Linked DNA regions of Homo sapiens. The protein of the gene in region 1 purifies or fractionates together with the protein of each later gene. This does not show direct contact. Each region holds a gene or a part of one and is shown in the gene's direction. Other genes may lie near its edges.

Region 1 (3,500 bases):
ATTGTAATGTTAGAAAGCATTACTGTTAGGACATTATATTGAAATGCAGCTTTTGTCCTGTTGCCATTGCATGTTCTTGTTTTAGCCTATTTCTCTTTGAGATACAGCTGTGAAAGAGGAAAAATAGTCACTAGCTTTAATAGTCACCAGAATTAAGTCACTAGCTTTGGGGACTCTCATCAAGTGAACCATTCTGGTCTTCAATGTCAACTTTTATAAAATGGAGCTAATGATACCTACTTCATACTGCTGTTGAAAGTGTTAAATGAGATAATATATGTGAAAAGGCCTAGATATGCAAATGTGAGACTGGGCAACTGTAGGGTTTGGGATCTGTTTAATGAGAGAAACCAAGATGAAAAGGACAAGAGTTGTTTACTTATTGATATGGTTTGGCTGTGTCCCCACCCAAATCTCAACTTGAATTGTATCACCCAGAATTCCCATGTGTTGTGGGAGGGACCCAGGGGGAGGTAATTGAATCATGGGGGCTGGTCTTTCTCATGCTATTCTCCTGATAGTGAATAAGTCTCATGAGATCTGATGGGTTTATCAGGGGTTTCCGCTTTTGCTGCTGCTTCATTTTTCTCCTGCCGCCAATGTAAGAAGTGACTTTCACCTCCCGCCATGATTCTGAGGCCTCCCTAGCCATGTGGAACTGTAAATCCAATTAAGCCTCTTTCTGTTCCCAGTTTCGGGTATGTCTTTATCAGCAGCATGAAAACAAACTAATATGGTTATTAATAACATTTTTGATGTAGGATTTGGTTGGGGAAGAGGAAACAATTGGAATCATTTTTGAATTGTCCTCTAGTCCTGTTTTCAGGGGATCACTGGTCTTAGAAAGTCTTTTTATGTTTGTGTCTTGGGTTTATGCAGGTAATGCCATGGTCTTTAAACCTTCTCCCTTTACACCTGTTTCTGCATTGCTACTGGCTGAAATCTACAGTGAGGCTGGTGTACCTCCTGGGCTCTTCAATGTGGTGCAGGGAGGGGCTGCCACAGGCCAGTTTCTGTGTCAGCATCCCGATGTGGCCAAAGTCTCCTTCACTGGAAGTGTGCCCACTGGCATGAAGGTGAGGACAAAACCAGTATTGGTCAACACACATGGCATTTGGATGTGGCAAATCCGGTCCTACCCAGAGTATATTTTGGAGGCTTCTCTTTTGATTTTACCTAGCCTGAATTGGGAATGGGAAGGAGATTTTATTAGGCAGAGGTGTGAAATTTCCTGTAAAAGTATGAAGGGGGAAAGGGAGTACACATGGGGTGATTTGTGTTAGGCCAGGTAGGGGTGGAAATTAACAGCCCCAGCCTAAGGAGAGGATGTGTCTTAGTGGACAGGGGCCTGGGCTGCCACTTGTATTGTTTAGTGACTTAATTTCTTGTATAGAAGAAAGGATTTTTACTCAGGCTATTTCAGATCCATTATTTTGACATTAATTTGTGTTCTGAACTCTGTCAGCCTTAAACACAGTAACAATAACACAAAAGAATTTCTGGCTATGACAATCCTGTGAATTGACAATATTTTTTATTTTTATTTTTTTGAGACAGGGTCTCACCCTGTTGCCCAGGCTGGATTATAGTGGTGTAGTCACAGCTTACTGCAGCCTTCAACTCCTGGGCTCAGGCAGTCCTCCTGCTTCAGCCTCCTAAGAAGCTGAGACTACAGTCATGTGCCACTGTGCCTGGCTAAGTTTCTTATTTTTCTGTAGAGATAGGGTCTTGCTATGTTGCCCAGGCTGGGACAATATTTTTTAAATGAACTCCCTCTTCTAATGTCAGTGCAACTCTGTGGATTCTCTTCAGTTTTCTGGAATAGAATATTTTAATAGCCAAAAGGCAAAGGATATTGACAAGAATAAGGCTACAGGTCACAAACAGTTCAAGATGATTTTGTAGGTTCAGGGCCTAGTTGACTTAGCATGCAATATAATTTGTGTTAAAGTTCTGAATACCTTGTCCTTGTTCTGCAAGATCATGGAGATGTCAGCTAAAGGAATCAAACCTGTTACCTTGGAACTTGGAGGCAAATCTCCACTCATCATCTTCTCAGACTGTGATATGAACAATGCTGTAAAGGGGGCGCTGATGGCCAACTTCCTCACACAAGGCCAGGTATGTACCTGTCCCTGGAAGAGGTGTAAAAGGAATCTCTACCCCCTCATCCAACAGTGTGTTTTAAAGCTTTTTGTTTTACAATACTTTCAGACTTACAGAAAAGTTGCACAAATAGTACAAAGAATTCCCATGTACCTTTGAACCAGATTTCTCAAATATTAACATTTTAACAGATTCACTTTATCATCTTCTTTATCTGCCTGTACATACGTAGGCATATTAAGTTTTTCTGAACCTTGAGAGTAAATTGTAGACATAAGGCCCCTAACCTCTAAATATAAAGTTCCTAAAAACAAGTGCATTCTTTTACATAAGCACGGTACACTTAGTAAAATTAAAAAATTAACATTGATATAGTACTGTTACTGAATCTATAGCCCTTACTCAATCTATAGCCCTTATTCAAATTTTGCCACTTGTTTGACTAATGTCCTCATAGTAAAATAGAACAAAAATGGTTTTTTTTCCGGTCTAGGATCCAGTCAAGGATGATGCATTGCCTTTAGTTGTCTTGTCTTTAATCTCCTTTAGCTGAGAACAGTTCTTCAGTTATTCTTGTCTTTCAGGACGTTGACATTTTGGGAGAACAGGCCATTCATTTTGTAGAATGTTCCTTAGTTTGGGTCTGTCTGATGTTTTCTGTTAGATTCATATTATGAATTTTTGGCAAAAATACCACAAACATGATGTCATATCCTACTCAGTGGTGATTTAACTTTGATCACTTGCTTTAAGGTAAGTCCTCACTGTAAAGTTACTGTTTTTTACTTTGTGGTTAATAAGATCTTGTAGGAGGTATTTTGAGACTATCCTGTTCCTCATCAAACTTTCATGCAGTAAATACTTCTATCACCACTGACGATTCTTGCTGAAAACAATTTTTATTATGGGGTTGCAAATGGTGATTTTCCAATTCCATCATTTCTTCTATATTTGTTCACCTTCTACTGTAAGAAAGAACTTGCCCTTCACCCCTGTTTGTTTTCCATTCATTTATTTATATCAGTATGGACCCATGGATTCTTATTTCATTCTATGTGTTATAATCCAATACTATCATTATTTATTTATTTTTTATTTTTATTTATTTACTTACTTATTTTTTGAGACGGAGTCTAGCTCTGTCCCCCAGACGGTAGTGCAGTGGCACGATCTCGGCTCACTGCATCCTCTGCCTCCCAGGTTTAAGCGATTCCCCCGCCTCAGCCTCCTGAGTAGCTGGGATTACAGGTGCCCGCCACCATGCCCAGCTAATTTTTGTATTTTTAGTAGAGACAGAGTTTCACTGTGTTGGCCAGGCTGGTCTCAAACTCCTGACTTCACAATCCACCCACGTTGGCCTCCCAAAGTGCTGGGATTACAAGTGTGAGCCACTG
Region 2 (4,300 bases), on another chromosome or scaffold:
ACAGGTGTGAGCCAAGGTGCCCGACCTGATGTGCTTGTAAGAATTTAAATGAAGAGGGTCAGTCAGCTTAGGAGACGAGGTTAGATGTAAGGATTTCAGACTTGTCAGTATACAGGTGGTGATTGATGCCGTAGGAATGACTGGTATTACCCAGGGAGCTGGTGCAAAGTAGGAGCCTTGGGGAACATGTTAAGGGGATGTGAGAGTAAGCCCACAAAGACTCAGAAGTGGCCAGGGAGTAAGGGGAAAATGGGATAGAATAGAGCAAAAGCCACGGGAGGCATTCCTTGAATTCCTTGGACTCAGATATGTTAGGGGACAGGAAACACATTGAAGACAACTGAAGAGACTTCAGTGTGCTGCTGAGTTCTTAGCAGAGTAGACAGCTGATTTCACCACTATTCCAGACCCTAAAGATTTCTCCTGAAATTGCACTGTTATGCAATTTTTTTCCTTCTCTATTGCCCCACCTCTGGGGCCTACACTCTTTACCTTCTCTGATTTATCTGACCCATCCGCATATCTCTGCAAAGTCTTAATGTAGGTTTCCAGGATTTAATGATTCTTTCAATCAACTTTAAAGTTCTTCAGGAAGATTCTCCAGGTCCGTCAACAGTTTTCCCCTTCATGACTTTGTGACAAAGCTTTCTTGTTCCACTATCCAGGTGTTCCCAACAAGTTGCTGTAACGGTGGCCCCTCATAAGCTTGCCTGGAAACCCTAGAAAGCTCAGAAAAATTATGAACTTTGCCCAGTAAGAGGCTGGGAAGTCAGAAAGGGTTTTAAACAAAACTGACCCCACTTGTTACATGCTCCTTTCACTGTCCAAACGTCAACCAAAGGAACTTTTGTGACGCTAAGACGCTCCCGGCGTCCTCACCCGTTCACAGCCAGAGTTGATCTTAGAAGGCAGGGGGCTCGCACCGAGACGCTCCTAGCAAGCCCCTCACGCGAGCGAATGACTGGCGCCAGGAGAAACGCATAGGACCTCCCGAAGCCGCCGAGAGCAAAAGGACCCATCAGAGCTGTGCTGAGACCCGCCGCGGGCCGGGCTCGCACTCGAGATTCTCGCCCGTGGGATTCCAGTCCTGAGCTGAACGAGAGATAAGTCTTTGTCACCCCCCAGTCTTTACTGTTTCGAGAAACCCTAAGATTTTTTAAAAAAAAGCCCAAGACGTCAAGTCGGGGAACTCCAACATTGGGGTGTCCAGAAACACTGGGGTTTCAGGCGCTCTGTAAATGCGTCCGAGGTCCGCGGTTCTGCCCGCAAGCCCAGACCCCGGCCTCACTTCCGCCCCGCGCCCCGCGCCCCGGCCTCACTTCCGCCCCGCGCCCCGCGCCCCGCGCCCCGCGCGCCTCCGCCCGCCCCTGCTCCGGCCTTGCGCCTGCGCACAGTGGGATGCGCGGGGAGGTGGTGCGCGGGGAGGTGGAGGGCGAGGGGCGGGGCTACCTCAGGTCCCGCCCGCGGCAGGCCTGTGGGCTGCGAGGAGGAGCTTTGCCTAGCTTGCAGGCAGCGCAGGGCAGACGGCGGCAGGAGAAGCAAGATGAATGCAGGCTCAGATCCTGTGGTCATCGTCTCGGCGGCGCGGACCATCATAGGTGAGTGGCCGGCGGGAGCCGCGCAGAGTCCGAGGCGCCTGCTGCTTCGGCAGGAGCGCCGAGGGCCGGACTTGTGTAGGAGAGGGGCGTATGTGGAGGAAGCCGGTCAGGCCAAGCCGCGAGGAGCCGCGGGATCCCTGGAACCCTGCGGCTCCCGCGTTCCCTGACCTGGTGCTACAGCCCCACCCTCTCCTCTCCCGATGTGCGCACTCCGTCCCTCGTGCTTGGATTGGCTCCCGGGGTAGAGCCATCGCGTGGCCTGCCTCTCCCATTGGTTGGCGTAGGGAGGTGTTCTCCTCCGGGGCCCCTGATTGGCCGGCTCCGGGAGGCGCCATCGGTAATGCCTGCGGCAGGGGCGGAACTGCTAGGTGGTCTGAGCCCGGCTTTGGGCTGGGGTCGGGCTGTCACACAATGGCTAGAAGTCGTGACTTCGTCTCCTTCGTGCCGCATGGTTTTCAACGCCCTTGACCCGCCGGTTCCTTTTGTTTGGGAAGCATGGGGTCGCATCCAGTCCTTCGGATTTGGGGAAATAGAAGGGCTACAGCGGCGTCCCTAGGCCGTTCTGGAGGTCGCCTGTCCAGCCCTCGGCTGCTGCGAGTTGTGGCACCCACCTTGACCTTTGCTCAGACCAGCAGGTGTAGGAACGTGTGGGAGGAGAGGGCACTGCCTCCTCGCGTGGCCTTGCCAAACAGGGTCATGAGGCTCCCCTGCTCGTAGGTGGTTCCCGTATTACCCGCAGGCTTGTGATGTCCACGCTCTCCGCCTTTCTATTGTAGGTTCCTTCAATGGTGCCTTAGCTGCTGTTCCTGTCCAGGACCTGGGCTCCACTGTCATCAAAGAAGTCTTGAAGAGGGCCACTGTGGCTCCGGAAGATGTGTCTGAGGTCATCTTTGGACATGTCTTGGCAGCAGGTAAGTCTCAGTGATTCCAGGAGAAGTCAGGCTTATTAGAAACAGCCCATAAACACACACACACACACACACTCTCACACACTCACACACTCTCTCACTCACTCAAGTTCTTGCCTCCTTGCTTTTGCTCAGAGTTCCCTCTGTTATGATTCCTCCTGTTGGCCCCCTTCTTCCAGCCCTGTCAGTAGCTTCTATCCAGCTTGAGACTCAGCTTCTTGGCCAGGCAGGGTGGCTCCCGCCTGTAATCCCAGCACTTTGGGAGGCGGAGGAGGAAGGATCACTTGAGTCCAGAAGTTTGAGACTAGCCTGGGCAACAAAGCAAGACCCCGTCTCTACAAAAAATAAAATAGCCAGGTATGATGGCCTGTGCCTCCCAGCTACTGGAGAGGCTGAGGTGGGAGGATCACTTGAGCCCAGGAGTTTGAGACTGCAGTGATTGTGTCACTGCACTCCGTCATGGGTGACAGAGTGAGACCCCTTCTCTAAACAAACAAAAAGACTTAGCTTCATTAATATGCTTTTTGTGAATGAACTTAGACCACTGACCTACACCACCTACACTGCCTTTTCTTTTCCTTTTTTTTTTTTTTTTTTTTTTTTTTTTGAGACGGAGTCTCTCTCTGTGGCCCAGGCTGGAGTGCAGTGGCGTGATCTCGGCTCACTGCAAGCTCCGTCTCCCGGTTTCACGCCATTCTCCTGCCTCAGCCTCCCGAGTAGCTGGGACTACAGGCGGCCCACTGCCTTTTCATTCTTACGAAGCAGGGCCGGCCGGGCCCGGTGGCTCACGCCTGTAATCCCAGCACTCTGGGAGGCCGAGGTGGGCGGATCATGAGGTCAGGAGATCAAGACCATCCTGGCTGACACGGTGAAACCCCGTTTCTACTAAAAATACAAAAAATTAGCCGGGTGTGGTGGCGGGCGCCTGTATTCCCAGCTACTTGGGAGGCTGAGACAGGAGAATGGCGTGAACCCGGGAGGCGGAGCTTGCAGTGAGCTGAGATTGTGCCACTGCACTCCATTCAGCCTGGGCAACAGAGTGAGACTCCTTTTAAAAAGAAGAAGAAGAAGCAGCAGCAGGGCCAGCCTGACGCATAGGAAAGTATGCCTGCTCCTCCTTACTACCTCAAAGTGTCACTCATTCAACAAAAATGTATTCAGTTCCTCCTATGTGCCCCATACTGTGCTTAGTGCTGGGAGTATGGTTCCAACAATACAGGTAAGTTCCCTGCCCTCTTAGGGCTCAGTTCTGAGCTTGGAAAATAGGTGCCACATCATGCCCCTTGCAAATGGGGCATATCACTCCCCAGAGGAATATAGCTGAGTCCTGAGAGTGCCCCCATCTTCTGATTCTTTGGGTTTGAACACTCGTAATTAATTAATTAATTATTATTATTATTATTTAAAGAGACAGGGTCTCACTCTGTTGTCCAGGCTGGAATGCAGTGGTGTAATCAATCGTAGCCCACTATAACCTCAAACTCCTGGGCTCCACGGTATCCTCCCACCTCAGCCTCTGGAGTAGCTGGGATTACAGGAGCAGGCCACCACACCTGGCTAATTTTTTAAATTTTTTTGTAGAAGTGGAGTCTGTCTGTTGCCTGGGCGTGAGTGCAATGGCTGTTCACAGGCACAATCATGGTGCACCATGCCCTTGAACTTCTGAGCTAGCTGGGACTACCGGTGCATGTCTACTAAGTTTAAGGCTTTTAAAGCACTGTGCTAAATGCTTTCCTTTCATTACCTCATTTAATCTTCCTCACAAGTCTGTTATATCCTATTATCTTCATTTTA
Region 3 (3,500 bases), on another chromosome or scaffold:
GGCATATTAGGATCCAAAACTGAAATAATACATAGGTATTATCTAGTTCAGCTCCTTCTTCTGCACCAGAAGATACCGAGGCCTCCTAATTTTACAGGACTGAGTCACACAGTTTAATTAATGAGGTCCTTCCAGGTCCCAGAATTAACGTTTCTCCTCAGAAGACCTCACAGTGTAGTGGTAATGGTGTATGAGAGTGCCCTGTTCCTGTTCTCATGTGCTTTTTTCCCCATGCCAGGAAAATCAGCTGTTCTTACTTTGAGGATGCTAAGACACTTATAAAACTATATTTCTTCTGACTAGAAAATTGTGTACAAGCACACGCGTGCACGCACGCGCACGCACACACACACACACACACAGCTCCATCCTCATCCTTCCTATCCCTATTTTTAAATGCCTGAATTGACCCAGCTGTGAGGTATGCAGACATTAACAGATATTTACTGGTACATTCCCACTTGTACGGTTTTGACTGTCTAACCTAAATCTTCAAGAAATCCTTTGGAATCTAACCTTTCGATTCATGGTTCCAGAATGGGTAGGAATAGCTTAGAACAGTTGGCCTTGTGGAAGGTATGAGCATCCAGCTGTGACAATGATCACTAGAGGGTACTCTTACCCCAAGGGCCTGCGAGGATTTGCCCACACTGCATCCGAGCCTCAGCTCTCTGCCTCTTCCTTGCATTCTCCTGACTAGACAGAGAACCAGGAAGTGTGAGGTTTGTCTGCCACTGATGGTGTTACCTTGCCACCAGCAGCTCTAGAGCCTATTTTCTTGTATGTAGCAGGTTTACATGAGGCTAAAGCTCTGCTATTTTTGAAGGTTTTGACACATTTCTCATTTAATCCTCAAAACACCTGCAGTAACATAGGAAGTACAATTTAACTTCATGTTATAGAATGGAAACTAAGGTATCGAGGAGGAAGCAATATGGAATGGAGGTTAAAAGCATCAGACAGGCTTTGCAGCCTGTGGAACCAGCCTAAGTGTCTAAACCTGTTTCCTCAGCGGTAAAAGTAGGATGACAGATAGTTACCTCATAAGGTTGTCAGCAGAATTAAGTTAGATAATGTATATAAGTGCTTAATATGGTGCCTGGTGCAAAGCAAGAGCTTAGCAAATGGTGACTTCTGTAACTATCAGCAAGTGGTTGGCCCAAGGTCAGACCTCTCAGAGGGGTAGAGCTGGACTGTGAACCCACATCTTCTGCCTCCCAGGCCAGTGTGTTCTCTTCTACACAGCAGGAAGCATTTATGTATGTTTGTAATTAATAGTTTCTGACTGTGTTTATGGAGTTTTTTCTTTTATTGCTTGGACTCAGTGAAACCTGCTGTGGACCCTGCTGCTGCCAAGCTGTGGACCCTCTCAGCCAACGATATGGAGGACGACAGCATGGTGAGCTGGCAGCATTGTCACTTGATTGCTTTCTTTCAGGCCCCAGTTTGGGTGTGAACAGCTATAGTGACCTTTCTGGACTTGTAGGTGTGAACGTATTTAAAGCCCAGATTTGTGACTATGCCTGTCACATCTTTGATTTAGAAGGAAACTCCATGTTGGTGGCTTTTTTTTTGGAGACAGTCTCGCTCTCTTGCCCAAGCTGGAGTGCAATGGCACAATCTCGGCTTACTGCAATCTCTGCTCCCGGGTTCAAGCGATTCTCATGTTTCAGCCTCCCAAGTAGCTATGATTACAGGCATGTGCCACCACACCTGGCCAATTTTTGCGTTTTTAGCAGAGACGGGGTTTCACCATGTTGGCCAGACTGGTCGCAAAACTCCTGACCTCAAGTGATCTGCCCGCCTCGGCCTCCCAAAGTGCTGGGATTACAGGTGTGAGCCACTGCGCTTGGCCATGTTGGTGGCATTTTAAATTTTTTAGCATCTCTTTTTCCCCACATAATTTCTTGTTCTCACTTCATACGATATGTTGAAAACTCTTGTGGGCATGTGTAAACCTGAAAAGATTTTGTCAGCTTAAATAGTTTTATTGGCACCTTTGGGCAAGTTGCTGACTGTTCCATGCTTTAAAAAGCACTATTTTCTATCTTTGGCCATGTCTGTAATAAAGTTCTTCATTTCTACACCTCTACTATTGAAGTTAGAGTAGTGAGCAAAATAAGTGAGGTTCATGCTCTCATAGGGTTTACAGACTAAGTGTCTACACATTTACAAAGAATTACATAAAGGTATATATAATTATTTGATTTTTATCTGGGATTATGTAAAAGATATTTTATTCCCTTTTTCACGTGACTCTTCATAAACACTTCTCTCTTTCTCTGTTCTGCCTGTTCCCTCCCTTCTCCCCACTCCTGCCCCCAACCCCCAACATGTGTATATTCTCTACACATTGCTGGCCAGTCATACAGCTTTTTCTCATGTAAATTTGTTTCTAATTCCTTTGCATCCTAGTGCATCTTCTGTGGATGTAGTTTAACTCACCGTTGGCCTCTTGAGCATGTGGTCAGGTTGAACATGATGATCAACCAAAAGGAGGACAGGGTGGACACCTTCTTTACCCTGGACTCCAAGTTTCCTCTCGAAGCCTGCAGTCACTTTAGCTTTTCATTAGCAGAGACCACGACTGTATCACTCATTGCTTTGAACACTCTCCAGGATCTCATTGACTCAGATGAGCTGCTGGATCCAGAAGATTTGAAGAAGCCAGATCCAGCTTCCCTGCGGGCTGCTTCTTGTGGGGAAGGGAAAAAGAGGAAGGCCTGTAAGAACTGGTGAGTGCTGGGGTGACTGGAGCCTGCCATGCTGCCTCCAGTGGCTTCATGCTGAAGACATCGCGGTGCTGTACTATTTTTAGAACATACATTTTCCAGGCTGGGCAACACAGGGAGACCATCTCTGCAAATAATTAAAAAAAAAAAAAAATTAGCCAGGCATGGTGGTATGTACCTGTGGTCCCAGCTACTTGGGAGGCAAAGGCAGGAGGATCACTTGAGCCTGGGAGGTCGAGGCTGCAGTGAGCCGTAATTGTGCCATGTATCTAATTTCACTCTCCCTCAAAACCCTACCAGTAAGCCACTATTGTGCCACTGCACTCCAGCATGGGCATCAGAGCGAGACCTTGGTGTCTTCACATTTGTTTTTATAAATGGATGGGAAGGATTGTAGAAAGTTAATCAGTGATGTTCATCATCAGCGTTAATCATCAGTGTTTTTTAAATGTAAAAGCTGCCAGCATTTACAAATCAGGAAATTTCAAGTGAAAACACAGATTTTTTTCCCTTCTGTTCTTGAATTTGGAAAATATGGCAATCTGGGTCCACTTTCCCCAGCATGATAACCAGCTGAAGCTTGAGTAGTGGCTGCCCTCTGTAGACAGAGCACACACGGTACTTCCCTCATCCTCCTCCCACTTCTGTCTCCCTCAGCAGCCTCTCATATTGCTGCTGTCTGCCTGGCCTATAGGCTTCTGAGTTATGACACTGGTGTGAAGAGAAAAGGCTTAAAGCACATTTTGGCACTGTTAGGATTTGGGATTT
Region 4 (3,500 bases), on another chromosome or scaffold:
CAACGCAACAGAGCTAACAGATAATGAATCTGCATGGGCTTTCATTTCTGTGGATGTCCCTCTCTCTTGTTGGAGGCATGCCATAGTTATATAGTAGAATGTTACTCAAAACATCACCTGGGACCAGCAGCACCAGCTTCTGAGAAATGCAAATTCTCAAACCATACCCTCCAGCCTACTGATTCATCATCTCTGGGAGTCAGTACCAAGGGATGGGCATATTTGCTGCCTCTGATTTTCCCTAAGGCTAAGCATCATTGAAAGGGTATACATTTGACTGAAGCAGAGAATCTGGAGAAAGTCTATAGATACAGATTTTGTTTTCATAGTTGGCTAGGTGGAGGAGGAGGGTCCAATATCAAAGCCTAAATAATAATGAGGATTGACTAACATAAGCATCATCATGGAAAAAAGACAGAGATTCTGAAAAAAAAAATACATATATGAGAAAATCAGAAAGAAGAAAGTTACTTGGTTATGTAAGCAGCGTTAAACATGAAATGCATATTTGTGGGTGCATTTGAGATGATTGTAACAATTATAAAAGAATTCATTCCATGTGGTAAATCTTAGATCAACAGTGTACTTATCTTATTACGTAGGCTCTTCAGGATGCCTTGAATATCAAGTGTTCATTTTCCGAGGACTGTTTGAGGAAGTCTCGAGTGGAATTCTGCCATGAGGAGATGAGAACAGAAATGGAAGTTCTGAAGCAGCAGGTGAGAAGCTGGAAGTGGCATGATCCTGTGGAGAACATACTGCCCATTTTTCATGCTTCTTTGGGCATTTTTAGATGTCTTGCTGCTAGAAATATGTCAAAGGTTTTTGCATTTATTTTAAGTAGAATTATCTAATTTTCAAGCTTGATAGAAAGAATACAGATCAGCTAGTTCAGTCCCACCATTTAGAACATAGGGAACTGAGTTTCAGACAGATTAAATGCTTACCCAAGATCACACAATTAAAAGAGGGGCACGCCAATTAACCTTTGGGTGAGGTTCTATTAGCACTGGGGCTAGGGAGTTTCACGTAGACATGGTTTTTGTTTTTGTTTTTGAGACAGAGTCTCCCATTGTCACTGAGGCTGTGGTGCAGTGGTACAACCTCCGCTCACCGCAACTTCCGCCTCCCAAGTTCAAGTGATTCTCCTGCCTCAGCCTCCCGAGTAGCTGGGATTACAGGCATGCACCACAATGCCCAGCTAATTTTTTGTATTTTTAGTAGAGATGGGGTTTCACCATGTTGTCCAGGCTGGTCTCAAACTTCTGACCTCGTGATCCACCTGCCTCGGCCTTCCAAAGTGTTGGGATTACAGGCGTGAGCCACAGCACCCAGCCACGTGGTTTATTTTAAGAACACTATTAATCCCAACTCTGGACTTTTTCAGAAAATGGTAGCAGCTGAGTGGTGATTCTGTAGTTGCTAGCCTCTAGGCCTTCGCACAATAAGAGCAGTTTCAAAGAAAATACTTTGTACTTATTATAATCACTGAAACCAGGTTTCTCAGCTAGTCCCGTGTATGGATGGCACCACTTAGCAATTCACTGATGCACAAGAGCATTCTCCTCCCCACTCACCTAACCTCACGCGCTATTGCCAAGTGGACAGCAAGAGTAAGGATGCACTCTCTACAACTTCCGCATGTATCTATTGGCAGCATAGGGCTGTGGAGATACTGCATTGGTTAAACTACCTGTGTCTAAATTTAATCAATCTGCTGAAATTCACTTAGCTGAGGGGCCGACCATGCATATCATGTCTCTTTTTATGTGAGAGGTTAAATTAATGTAGAGAAAAATCTGGAATGGTTCATGGCAATAATGATAAATACAGGATACATAAAGGAACCTCAATCCCTGAGGCACACATTGTCAGTAACATATTAGCAATGGGAGACAGGGTGTCATAGAACAAAGGGCTGGAAAGCATTATTTTTCTGATGTCCCTGGGTATGATTTACTGACTGGTTTTGCCCTGAGCAAGTACTAAGTACAAAGATTTTTGTTGCAATACATGGAAAAATTCAGCAATTGTGTTATGATTGTTGCTATTTACTTTATTGTTATTGCTTCATATGAAGTAGCCTGTGAATAGATCTAAAAATTTTATAGCATTTGATGGTGAAGTTGGATTTTCTGTTCTGTCAATTTTACTTGAATAATCTGCTTCATTACATTCAGGGTAAAATACATAGCTGAAAAATAAACCGACGAAGAGAATAAGGGTAATATGCACAGTCTTAAAGCTCTGTCAAACTCTCAACCCCTAAAGTAACTGTTGGTGCTAGCCAGGATTTCTTCAAAAACCAAAAGCACTGCTTATGTTCAAAACACTTGACATCTTCGGAACTCGCATATAAGGTACACCACATGCAAGAGTCACTTTTACACATAAAGTTTATAATAATGATTTGGTTCATATTTGTTACAGTGACAGATACTCTTTTTTCATAAACCCTGTGGGAAGACCAAAATCCATCTCCGTAGTTTTGCAGTGCCTCTACTGCTGACTTTCTCCATAAATATTTTAACTGTGCACGTTTCTAATCAGGCACCCGCAATCATTACATCACCAAGTGCCGCATGAAACACTAAAGGGTTTAAATGCACAAAGAAACTGAGTTGGAATCTTGGCCCCTACCTGACTAAAGTGATGATGTTGCCAGTGTTTAATTCTAATCAGATGGGCTCCTCCCATTTAAAATGCCTCTGGTAATTGTTTACAGAGCATCAGTTTAACTGTCTCTGGAAATGAATGTCAGTTCTCAACCAAAAAAATCATCAAAATGTCAATGTGGCTGGATGTAGTTTCCCTTCAGTGCTTCTGGTGAATAAAGCCTTAAAAATGTAATATGTGTATCTGCATGTAGATCTATACAAAATTTTTAATTTCTTCCCTTGCATATTTTGTTCTATTGCTGTCGACTTAGAACAATAAAATTGATAAACCTTTAGTTAAAATTTGTTGGGCTGTTAGTGATGAAAGTGTAATGTGCATTAGTTTTAATAGATAAAAATCTAGCTATAGGTTCCAATATAAGTAGTAATTTAAATCAGAATCTTAGAGGAATGTTTTTACTTCATTCCTTACCTTTCATTTGTTTTCATAGCTTTATATACCAGTCTGCTAACCTTCAGTCAACAGTAAGTCAGTTGAAAACAGTAACAATAATTAAACCTGTTTTTGTTTTTAGTTTAGTCACTTTTCTCAAATATTTGGAGTGCCTCTCAAGAGGTGTTCCACTCAAATATTACTATTATTTATGAGATACATCCAAAATAACTTATAAAAGGAAAATTTGTGAATACCTTTTAACAATCATGCTTTGCTTTTCCACATATGTAAGGGTTTCATTTCTTTTTTGCATTCAACTTATAATTTATGTCTGGAAACTTGGGCATGTCAGTATTTAGTGGCATCACTTAACATCTATTGTCAGTAAACTGTCTTTTAGAAGTTCAAGCAGTATTCATACATCAAAGCCCTTGTGTTAGGGATGG
Region 5 (3,500 bases), on another chromosome or scaffold:
AGACATACCTCAGCTTCCTGGACCCCACACGCTCTTGGTTTTCCTCCTTGCACTGTCTTTTGCTGGCAGGTCTTGTGTGGTCCATTATTAAGTAGTATTGTTCTTCCTGGTTCTCTGAGAGGCGAGACCTTCCAAAATTTTCATCTCCAGGACCTGTCCAGTGCTGATGTCTCCACTTGCCTGTCTCCCAGGTCCAAAGTGGGACTTAACCTTGTATCCTCCAATGACCTCTCGCTGCCCGCTCCTACTGTGCCCTTTGGTTCAGTGACTCATACCCGCATCCACCCTCCCGGGTTCCCAGACCAAAATAAAAAAGCATGGGAGTCCGTGTGGCTCCCTCTTCCCTCCACCCCTGTATCTGGATGGTTACCAAGTCATGACTGTTCTGTCTCTGATAATGCCCCCTGATCTCCATTCTTACCACCACTCTCCCAGGTAAATGCTCCATCTTCTCTGTCTTGGGTTGCATTTGGTCCCACCTGGTCTTTCAGTTAACTCCCTTCAGTCCACCCAATGCAGTCTTTTCTCTGCAGCCAAATTTTTTTCTATAGTTCAGGTCTGATGATACCACTTTCCATTTTCAAACTCCTTAAATTGGCCTCGGAGACCTGTGATGGCCAATCTTCCCCACCCCTGTGGGTCAGGTTCCTCTGGTGTGGGCCTATCTCTTAGTGCAAGGCTCCCTGTAGACTGTCCTGGGGCTGCCTGTCTAATTGTCTTCTCATTGAACCAGGTAGGCAGGCAGGAACCACTCATCTAGTCTGGGGGTGACTGGGGGGTGCAAAGAGTTTTGTTACAGGATGTATTTAACACTTTCATTGTCTGGCTCAAAATTCTCTTTGAAGAAACTGCCTTTGTTTAATTCTGTTTATTTATTTAGAACTTACCTAGAATTGATTTGCACTTGCAAAAATGCTGCTGTTTTAGAGTTTGCTTTCTAGGCTGGTTGCTTGCTCTGTCACCTTAGCTAAAAAGTAGGTACTGGAGCGCCTTTTCTCTTCTCTTCTCTTCTTTCTTTCTTCTTCTTTTTTTTTTTTTTTTTTTTTTTTTAGTAGAGTCTAGCTTTGTCGCCCAGGCTTAAGTGCAGTGGCACGATCCCGGCTCACTGCATCCTCTGCCTCCCAGGTTCAAGTGATTCTCCTGCCTCAGCCTCCCGAGTAGCTGGGATGACAGGCGCCCACCACCACACCCAGCTAATTTTTGTATTTTTAGTAGAGGCGAGGTTTCACCATGTTGGCCAGGCTGGTCTTGAACTCCTGACCTCAAGTGATCCACCCTCTTGAGCCTCCCAAAGTGCTGGGATTACAGGCGTGAGCCACCACACCTGGCCTGTAGCGCCATTTCTGTTTCTGGTTGCTCTATAAAGGGAGCTCTGTGCGTAGAGTAGGTGTGTCAGTAAGAATGACTTGACCTAGTTGGCACCAACAAAGAAAAATAGCAAACAAGTTAGGTTAGGTTTTTTTGATGATTGAAGAACATCTTGTATGTTAACAGGCAGTTTATAAAATGAGAAATGGAATGATTTTTAAAAACAGCATTCAGCTTTATAAATCCAGGAAATGCAGATAGAAAAGAGATAATTTTTTTACCTTTAAATTATAAAAAAGTTTGATAATTAACAGTTGTGAAAATCAATATTGTAAGGGTAAAGTACGTTGCCAGTGGACATGTTTTTGAACAGCAGTTTGTCAGTTGGTGTTTATGTAATTACATTTGCTCTCTCTGATTTATTACTCCTATTTTTAAGAATCTAGCTCAAGGAAATACCCATAATATGGGAAAAAAATCAGTATTCCTGAAGAGGTTCCTTGTAGCATTATTTTTCATAGCAAAATTGTGGAAAAACCTAACTGTCCAAAATATAGAGAACAATATTAGTGAATTATTCACTCAGAATAGTATGTAGCCAGAAATGATGTTTAGGAAATAGAGCTATGCATAATTAATATGGAATGATAGGGCAGGGTGCAGTGGCTCAAGCCTGTAATCCTAGCACTTTGAGAGGCCAAGGTGGGTGAATCACCTAAGGTCAGGAGTTCAAGACCAGCCTGGTCAACATGGCATAACCTCGTCTCCACTAAAAATACAAATATTAGGTGGGCATGGTGGGGTGCACCTGTAATCCCAGCTATTCGGGAGAGTGAGGCAGAAGAATCACTTGAACGTGGGAGGCAGAGGTTGCGGTGAGCTGAGATAACGCTGCTGCACTCCAGTCTCGGCGACAGAGCAAGACTCTGTCTCAAAAAAAAAAAAAAGACAGCCAAGAGATACCAACTAAAAAAGTAAGATGGAAAACAAAGTCAACATGATTCTATGTGTGTGTTAACATTAGAAAGGTGTGTATACTATAGATTTATAAAAGCCTTCTGGAAATTATGCAGGACAGGAATAGGACTAAGTAAGTTGGAGACAAGAAACTTTTGAAACATTTTTATATTGTCTGTAGTGATTGAGGTTATTTTGTTTTTAACTTTTTGCTATAATAAAATCTTAAAAGATGGTTATAAAGACTATTGTAATCCATAAAAATATTTATGATATGTCAAGCAAAAAAGAACGAGATGATGTAAAATGGCATATAGTTCATTTGTAGCTACAAGACAAATATGAGAATAGAGAAAAAAGGGGAACTATTAATTGGTTGTTTTAAAGTGTTGGGATTAGGCTGGACTCGGTGGCTCACGCCTAATAATCCTAGCATTAAATTTAGGAAGCTGAGGCGAGAGGATCCCTTGAGCCCAGTGGGTCAAGGCTGCAGTGAGCCGTGATCATGCCACTGTACTCCAGTCTGGGCAACGGGAAGACTCTGTAAAAGCGAATGATTAAAAATAAGTGTTGGGATTATATTTTCTTTGGATTTCTCTATTTTCTATTTAAAGATTGCCCTATCAGAATCCCATCTTCATTTTTTTGTTCTTTCTGACATAGGTTTTCAAGGGACATGAGTGACCCGAGGATGGTGTTGAGCCTCTCTTTGTAAGGGTTGTTTCTTTGTTACTCACGTACTGGTAATTATCTTACCATCTCTGCAGAGCCCACCCACCTTTGGGTTCCTGTTGGACATCGATGGAGTGCTTGTGCGGGGCCACAGAGTGATCCCTGCTGCTCTGAAAGCCTTCCGAAGGCTGGTGAACTCCCAGGGGCAGCTGCGGGTGCCCGTGGTTTTTGTTACAAATGCTGGGAACATCTTACAACACAGCAAAGCCCAGGAGCTGTCAGCCCTGCTGGGGTGCGAGGTGAGAAGGCAGCCAGAGGCATGGAAGCCCAAGGACCTGGTTCCTAATGGAGCCGCTGCCCCAGCTCCAAGTCCCTTTCCCCTGGGTTGGGATATGGAATCACCTAGTCCTAGGTCATGGCCACAGCTGAACACAGAAATCCTGCCTGTGTATTTGGCAGTTGTAGATTATGTCCTTGTATCTGTTTCTTTTCTTCTGGGCATTGGGGGTGTGAGTCCCTGGAAAGCAAAGGTCACACACATGTCTAGAACTTGCATAGCAGGA
Region 6 (3,500 bases), on another chromosome or scaffold:
ATATGTACGTAACTGGAAGCAAGGACGGCTGCATCAAATTATGGGATGGTGTTTCAAATCGATGCATCACAACTTTTGAGAAAGCACATGACGGTGCTGAAGTTTGTTCTGCCATTTTTTCCAAAAATTCTAAATACATTCTCTCAAGTGGAAAAGACTCTGTAGCTAAACTTTGGGAAATATCAACGGGACGAACACTGGTCAGATACACGGGTATGTGAGACGTTGATGTTACTTAACATTTCTGTAGTGTTTACACTTTCCAGAACTCTCTTTTAAGACCTCACAATAGAGCAACACAATATCTATGCATTGAGCAAGGCAGATGTTACCCTTTCTTAGATAAGAGGAAACCAAGACTTACAGGTTAAGTCATTTAGCCAAGGCTACACGACTTGGAAATAGAACGGTGCTTTCTTTGCTCTTCTGAGCACCTCACACCGTGGACTAGGGCTGGATTCCATGCAAGTAACATTTGAGAACCTGGTGATCCATTTGTAGACTGGCATGCCCTCTTCCCACAGAAATGTGAAAGCAATCCAGAGAAAAGTTTCCAATAGTAGATCTCAGTATTATTAATATATGTATTCATGAAAGAATGGCTGAGAGGGAAGATCTTATCCCATTCCTAAGAGAGCAGACCTAGCCCGCAAAGGAAACCACGTTAATTCTGAATGCAGATATAAAGTAGGCTCAGCAGACAGAAAAAAATTGCATCCACTGAATTCTCATTTATGTATGTTGGTCTCATTGGTAACAGTAGTGCCTGTGGAGTCTTTTTATAATGAAATCCATTTAAATTTATCCTATCACTAGTAGGGCCCAAGTCTGGTTATTTGATAATGAATGTTAAAACACTGTCTTCTGTTCCTTGTAGCAGCAAAGACTGTTGTTTGGTAGAAAACCTCCAGAAAATTTCTGATTGTTTCTTCCATTGTGAGATATGTTTGTATCATACACTAAAATTGGCATGAGCATAACTCAAAAAAAATCACAAGAAAACAGTATTGGAAGGGACTGGATTGTGTTTAAGTTTGCATTGAAGAGTCAGTGACATCTGACCCACTAGGGGGCAGCATAACTTGCCTTAGATTTGTCTCATTGTAACCAAAGTTCCCTTCCCCAGCCATCTTTCTGGCTTCTGGTACCACTAGCAAATCTTAGGAAGAGCCATTTTTATCATAATTCTTGGTGACTTCATTGAAACACTTGTATAAAGTTGTTCTGAAAAGTATTTATTATAAAGAACTACTTTATAATAGTTGTGTTTGTTGCAAAAAGAAGATAAAAAAGTGATCAGGGTAAATGTGAAAGTACTCCCCCTATAGAAGTTATAACTGTTTTAAGGAGTGTGCTGTATCTGGACAGATACACACCAGCCTACTGACAATAGCTTATATATTTGCTCTAGGAATGTTTTGGGTGTTTTATAATAGTATGAGGTTGATTGGCTTGTTTTAGTGGGGAATAGCAGTGTGGTTTTTCAAAAATGTGATTATGCTGAATTTATGCACAGATTCCCCTTTTCCTTTTTTCTCATTTCACAGGTCAAGCGCCTGTCATGTCAGCATGTTAAGATTTCTGTTCCCAGTTTTAATAATTAGTTAGAATTTGGGCCAGGCGCGGTGGCTCACACCTGTAATCCCAGCACTTTGGGAGGCCGAGGTGGGCAGATCACAAGGTCAGGAGTTTGAGACCAGCCTGGCCAATATGGTGAAACCCCGTCTCTATGAAAAATACAAAAATTAGCTGGGCTTGGTGGCGGGCGCCTGTAGTCCCAGCTACTTGGGAGGCTGAGGCAGGAGAATAGCTTGAACCTGGGAGGTGGAGGTTGCAGTGAGCCGAGATTGCGCTGCTGTACTCCAGCCTGGGCGACAGAGTAAGACTCCGTCTCAAAAAATGATAATAATAATAATTAGTTAGAATTCAGAGGGTTTTTGAAATGATGAAAAAGGAAAAACTATCAAAACTTTAGAAATTGGGATGCAAAAAATTAAAAACAATATAAATAACATACAGGACTGGGAGAAAATGGTTATAGCATATATACAGATGTTAGACATTGAGTTAACATCCTTAATCTATAAAGAGAACTCATATGGGAAAAAGATGAGTCCAAACTCGAGAAAAAAGGAGCCAAAGGACAGGGGGCTGCAGAAGAGAAAAATGGTCAGGAAATGTAAGAAAAGGTGGCCAGCCTTGCTGCAGACCCAAGAAATGAATATGGGGACCTGGTTTTGTTAATCAGATTTCAGGAGTCTTAAAGATTTATATTATCTACTATTGATAGAGATTTCGGGAAATCATATTTTGTTGGTCAGAGTCAGCTGGTAAAATATTTCAGCACAGTTTGGTGTCATATCAAAATTTTAAATACACGCTTTTTGACCCACTATATCTACTCTTAGAAATTCAACCTAAAGAGGTAATTGGACAGACATGCACATGCCCATAAAAGGATGTGTGTCCCAACATCATTTGGAGTGGCTGAAAGTTAGAAACAGCATAAATGTCCAATAAGAAGCACTGAGGAAATCTGTTACGCATCCATGGACAACATACACCTTTAAAAATAAGTATGCATGCTAACATGGGCTGAGCACTCGCACTCCAGAGCCTCCTTTGCATTCTCTTATTCTTAATCCTCACAGCCTTATGGGGTAGGTTCTGTAACTACTCCATGGAACAGATGAGAAAATTAAGGCTGAGGAATGTTAAGTAATTTGCCCAGGGTCACATTAGTGTTGAACCCACATCTGACCACACAGACTTTGTGTTTTTATCCACTAAGCTGTATTCTGTCTTTACAGATCTGCACTACATATGCTTGAATATTAATAGTATATGACAAATGCTCTGACTTAAAGAAGTTACAAATGAAGCCAGGGACTGTGGCTCACACCTATTATCCCAGCACTTTGGGAGGCCAAGGTGGGCAGATCATCTGAGGTCAGGAGTTTGAGACCAGCCTGGCCAACATGGTGAAACCCCATCTCTACTAAAAATACAAAAATTAGTTGAGTGTGGTGGCACATGCCTGTAATCCCAGCTACTCAGGAGGCTGAGGCAGGAGAATCTCTTGAACCCAGGAGGCAGAGGTTGCAGTGAGCCGAGATCACACCATTGCACTCCAGCCTGGGCAACAGAGTAAGACTCTATCTCAAAAAAAAAAAAAAAAGAGAGAATTTACAAGTGAGCACATAACACTTAGATATTTCGAAAGAGTATTCACCAAAGTATTGACTGTTACCTCTGATGGGTGCAATTATTAGGCAGTTTTTATTTTCCTTTTTATACTTTATTTGGTACTTTTAAACATAAAATATGTAATTTATAGTCATAAAAAGGCTTCCTTTTGGAAAGTAGATATTCATATACTTTGTCTCAGTAATTCTGTCTCTAGGAATTTACTCCTAAGGAAATAAAGCTTTCTGTACAAAGGATGTTCATTACAACATTACTTATAATTGATATAAACTAAATGTCAGGAAGTAAAAGAA
Region 7 (3,500 bases), on another chromosome or scaffold:
CCCACAGTCTCAGGATCATGCAGCCCTAGTGCTTTGGTAAATCCAGATCAGGGTGACCCATGATAGCCGTGGATTGTTATTTCTTTTTATTTAAATACAGACAGGGTCTCACAACGTTGCCCACGCTTGTCTCGAACTCCTGGGCCCACGCAATCCTCCCACCTCCACTTTCCAGAGTTTCTGTTGAGACAATGAGAGGTTCCCATGCAGGTGCAGGAAAGAATCGAATGCCTTTGCCAACTTTGCCCAGGTCCCCAGTGATGACGTTTTGCAAAACTATGGTGTCATCTACACCCCGATACCGACCTGGAGACCACCAGCAATCTAATTCCCATTCAGCCATCGCACTGGTGAAGGAGCTCTGGACTGATGTCAGTGTGGGGCTCTTCCAAACAAAGCGAACGTTTGCACAGGTTTTATGTAGAGACAGGTCGTCATTTCTCTGAGATAAATGCCCAGGAGTGCAGTTGCCAAGTCACACGGGGGCCGGATGATCAGGTTTTTAAGAAACTGCCAAACTGCTCTTTGGAGCGGCTGCACTGGCCCACGTCCTACATGCTTTGATGTTTTTATTCCAGGAGAAAGTTCAGAAGGACTCACTGAGGCCCGAGGCTGCGCGGTACCTGGAGCGGCTAATCAAGCTGGGCCGGAGAAATGGGCTTCACCTCCCCAGAGAGACTCAGGAAGTGAGTGCTGGGTGTAGGGAGTGCTGGGCGTGGGCAATGGTCGATCCCGGGGAGTGCTGGGCACAGGGAGTGCTCAGTCCCAGGGAGTGGTGGGAGCAAGAAGCGCAGGGCAGGGGGAGTGCTGGGCTCGGGGAGTGCTCGGCTCAGGGAGTGCTTGGGGCATCAGGAGTGCTGGGTTCAGGGAGTGCTGCGTCCCGGGGAGTGCTGGACTCAGGGAGTGCTTGGGCACAGGGAGTGCTGGGTGCCGGGAGTGCTGGGTGTGAGGAGTGCTCGGTCCCAGGGAGCACTGGGCATGGGGAGTACTGAGCTCAGGGAGTGCTTGGGCTTGGGGAGTGCTGGGTGGGGGGAGTGCTCGGTCCCAGGGAGTACTGGGTGTGGGGAGTGCTCAGTCTGGGGAGTACTCGGCATGGGGAGTACTGGGCACGGGGAGTGCTCAGTCCTGGGGAGTGCTCAGTTGCGGGGAGTGCTGGGCTCAGGGAGTACTGGGTGCGGGGAGTGCTGGGCGTGGCCAGTGGAGCTTCTGTGGCCCCCTGCCCCTGCCTCCTCGGGAGCGTCCCCCCTTCAGGGCTGACCCCCGGCCTGATGTCCATCTTTCTTCTGCCTGAGGACCTGAACTCTGGCAAGGCAGGTCCACACAGACATGGGGCGCAGAGGCTCGGTAACGAGGGGAGCCCCTCCACCCACTGCCCGGTGTGCCTGATGTGGGCGTCTCAGGGGTGACATGAGTTAGTTGGTGCAGAGCTGGGAGCGCAGCGCTGAAGTCAAGCGTAGTGTGTTAGCAGAAGCCCAGTGTTCAGCGGCACCAACAGAGCAGTGGCGACCGCCACTGGAAAGATGCGTGTCACAGTTCCCAGGAACTGGCAGCTCGCCACATGGGAAGCATGGCTGGGTCAGGAGGTGTGCTCTGGGCAGGGCCTTCGCTGGGGTCCCTTGTGAAGGCATGGGTGTAGCGGGGAGTGGGCTCAGGGTTGGCCGGCTGGACCATCTCAGCCAGCCCTGGCATGGGGGCTGCCCCTCATCGGGTGCCTGGCCCTAGGGTAATGGGGGCCGGTGGATGGTGCCCCAGAGTGTAGGGGCTCGAGACTAGTTGATTTGCACGTGAAAGATGTTTGCAGGCGAGCTGTTGGCTGTCTCTGGGAGGGGCCATTTCTCGAGGGCCAGCAAGGCACCCAAATGTCAAAGCATCAGAATACAGGCCCCTGATTCACCATGGTGTGTGTTCAGTAGAAACCGTGCTTGGAATGCTGATCTTTCCGAGGCCGGCCACTTGGGCACTTGCTGTCCTGTGACGCTGGGCGCCAGCCACAGCTACCAGCTAGCCTGCAATGACGCAGGCAAACTGAAAACCGAAGTTACATGAGATACCCAACACCTCATATCCGATAGCCTTTGCCTTCGGCGATCTCACCAGAATGTGGGCTGCTGTGAGTTCCTGAGCACGCTTAAGACAGGCCAGGTTAAGCTGTGATGTTCGCTCCTATTAAATGCATTTGTGATTTATGATATTCACAACTCACGATGGGATTATTGGGACATACCCCTGTCCTAAGTCAGGGAGCATCTGTACAGGAAAGAAAGCACACAGTTCAATCAGGTCCCAGGCTGCAGCCATAGCCCCATGGCTGTCCCTGTTCCGGTTCCATAAAGCCACCGCTGTCCTGGTTAGGGGGCGTCTCCACCTTATGGCTGAGGCAACCAAGACTCAGAGAGGCCAGGTGGGTTTGTCAGTGAAACCAGCACTGACGAAAGCGGAGTCAGGGTCCGTCTCAGTACTCGGGGACTGGGGGTCCTCAGCTCAGCCGCAGCGGACAAGAGCCAGTTATTTTTATTTTTATTTATGCATTTATTTATTTATTTAGACAGGGAGTCACACTCTGTCTCCCAGGCTGGAGTGCAACGGTGTGATCTCAGCTCGCTGCAACCTCTGCCTCCTATGTTCAAGCGATTCTCCTGCCTCAGCCTCTGGAGTAGCTGGGATTACGGGCACCCGCCAACACAGCTGGCTAATTTTTTTTTATTTTTGATAGAGACAGGGTTTTACCACATTGGCCAGGCTGGTCTCAAACTCCTAACCTCAAGTGATTCACCCGCCTTGGCCTCCCAAACTGCTGGGATTACGGGTGTGAGCCACTGTACCACAGTTATTTTTAAAACCCCTTCGGCTTGTTGCATGCCCAGCATGTGTGGCCATGTGCATGGTAGAAGCCACAAACTCTCCCACAAGGGCCAGCAAGCAAGGAGGGAGCAGAGGCAGCCCCGCCTGGAGGACAGAAGCGCGGAAAAGGTGCGAGGTCCGGATGCTGGCGAGCAGAGTTCCAGCGCGTCCCCGCGGCCCTTAGGGCCAGCGCTGTGTGCTCATTGAGTCTCCAGAGCCTTCCCTGGCATGGCTGGGTTTGTTATGTGAGATGGCAAGAGGGGGAGACATTGGGAATTGCCCAGCATGGGGCCTGTTCCCAGGAGAGGCCCAGCAAACCCTCAGCTGGTTCTGAACCAGGGCCTTCCTGACAAGATACAGGCTCCCTGCAAAGTCCTGGGCACAGTTTCCCCCTGCTGCCGCCCTCTGTCCTGCGGATGAGCATTTCTGCTCTGGCCCCATGGAGCTGGGCTCCAGACCCGCCTGGCGGAGCTTCCAGCAGGAGAATCTGAGTCAAAGTACAGCCCTGCTGCCAGCCTGTCATGTGTCATGTGGCCTCAAGCCAGGTCCTTGTCACATAGTGGTCACCTCCCAGCCTTCAAGGCCACCAGAGGGACCACTCAAGATTCAGTTCCTTTGTTGATATCCCATATCACCAGGGTCGAGTTTTAGCTGTTTCT

What was found.
Region 2: the proteins of ALDH9A1 (region 1) and ACAT2 fractionate together in Homo sapiens (co-fractionation; one large-scale study listed by BioGRID). This does not show direct contact.
Region 3: the proteins of ALDH9A1 (region 1) and CIAPIN1 fractionate together in Homo sapiens (co-fractionation; one large-scale study listed by BioGRID). This does not show direct contact.
Region 4: the proteins of ALDH9A1 (region 1) and TNIP3 purify together in Homo sapiens (co-immunoprecipitation; one large-scale study listed by IntAct). This does not show direct contact.
Region 5: the proteins of ALDH9A1 (region 1) and HDHD5 purify together in Homo sapiens (affinity purification with mass spectrometry, with the first as the bait; one large-scale study listed by BioGRID). This does not show direct contact.
Region 6: the proteins of ALDH9A1 (region 1) and CSTF1 purify together in Homo sapiens (affinity purification with mass spectrometry, with the first as the bait; one large-scale study listed by BioGRID). This does not show direct contact.
Region 7: the proteins of ALDH9A1 (region 1) and THOP1 fractionate together in Homo sapiens (co-fractionation; one large-scale study listed by BioGRID). This does not show direct contact.

What each region holds. Positions count from the first base shown.
Region 1 is NC_000001.11:165,678,063-165,681,562, reverse strand, and holds part of ALDH9A1 (4-trimethylaminobutyraldehyde dehydrogenase isoform 1 precursor), read left to right. Parts: intron 1-879; coding exon 880-1,076; intron 1,077-1,980; coding exon 1,981-2,121; intron 2,122-3,500. UniProt on the Homo sapiens protein: Converts gamma-trimethylaminobutyraldehyde into gamma-butyrobetaine with high efficiency (in vitro). Can catalyze the irreversible oxidation of a broad range of aldehydes to the corresponding acids in an NAD-dependent reaction, but with low efficiency.
Region 2 is NC_000006.12:159,760,545-159,764,844, forward strand, and holds the start of ACAT2 (acetyl-CoA acetyltransferase, cytosolic), read left to right. Parts: upstream 1-1,500; 5' UTR 1,501-1,543; coding exon 1,544-1,598; exon of another isoform or gene 1,599-1,788; intron 1,789-1,934; exon of another isoform or gene 1,935-2,093; coding exon of another isoform or gene 2,094-2,235; intron 2,236-2,374; coding exon 2,375-2,509; intron 2,510-4,300. UniProt on the Homo sapiens protein: Involved in the biosynthetic pathway of cholesterol.
Region 3 is NC_000016.10:57,430,386-57,433,885, reverse strand, and holds part of CIAPIN1 (anamorsin), read left to right. Parts: intron 1-1,325; coding exon 1,326-1,399; intron 1,400-2,619; coding exon 2,620-2,735; intron 2,736-3,500. UniProt on the Homo sapiens protein: Component of the cytosolic iron-sulfur (Fe-S) protein assembly (CIA) machinery required for the maturation of extramitochondrial Fe-S proteins.
Region 4 is NC_000004.12:121,147,322-121,150,821, reverse strand, and holds part of TNIP3 (TNFAIP3-interacting protein 3), read left to right. Parts: intron 1-602; coding exon 603-719; intron 720-3,500. UniProt on the Homo sapiens protein: Binds to zinc finger protein TNFAIP3 and inhibits NF-kappa-B activation induced by tumor necrosis factor, Toll-like receptor 4 (TLR4), interleukin-1 and 12-O-tetradecanoylphorbol-13-acetate.
Region 5 is NC_000022.11:17,149,278-17,152,777, reverse strand, and holds part of HDHD5 (haloacid dehalogenase-like hydrolase domain-containing 5 isoform 2 precursor), read left to right. Parts: intron 1-3,032; coding exon 3,033-3,236; intron 3,237-3,500.
Region 6 is NC_000020.11:56,399,145-56,402,644, forward strand, and holds part of CSTF1 (cleavage stimulation factor subunit 1), read left to right. Parts: coding exon 1-213; intron 214-3,500. UniProt on the Homo sapiens protein: One of the multiple factors required for polyadenylation and 3'-end cleavage of mammalian pre-mRNAs. May be responsible for the interaction of CSTF with other factors to form a stable complex on the pre-mRNA.
Region 7 is NC_000019.10:2,795,503-2,799,002, forward strand, and holds part of THOP1 (thimet oligopeptidase), read left to right. Parts: intron 1-578; coding exon 579-686; intron 687-3,500. UniProt on the Homo sapiens protein: Involved in the metabolism of neuropeptides under 20 amino acid residues long. Involved in cytoplasmic peptide degradation. Able to degrade the amyloid-beta precursor protein and generate amyloidogenic fragments.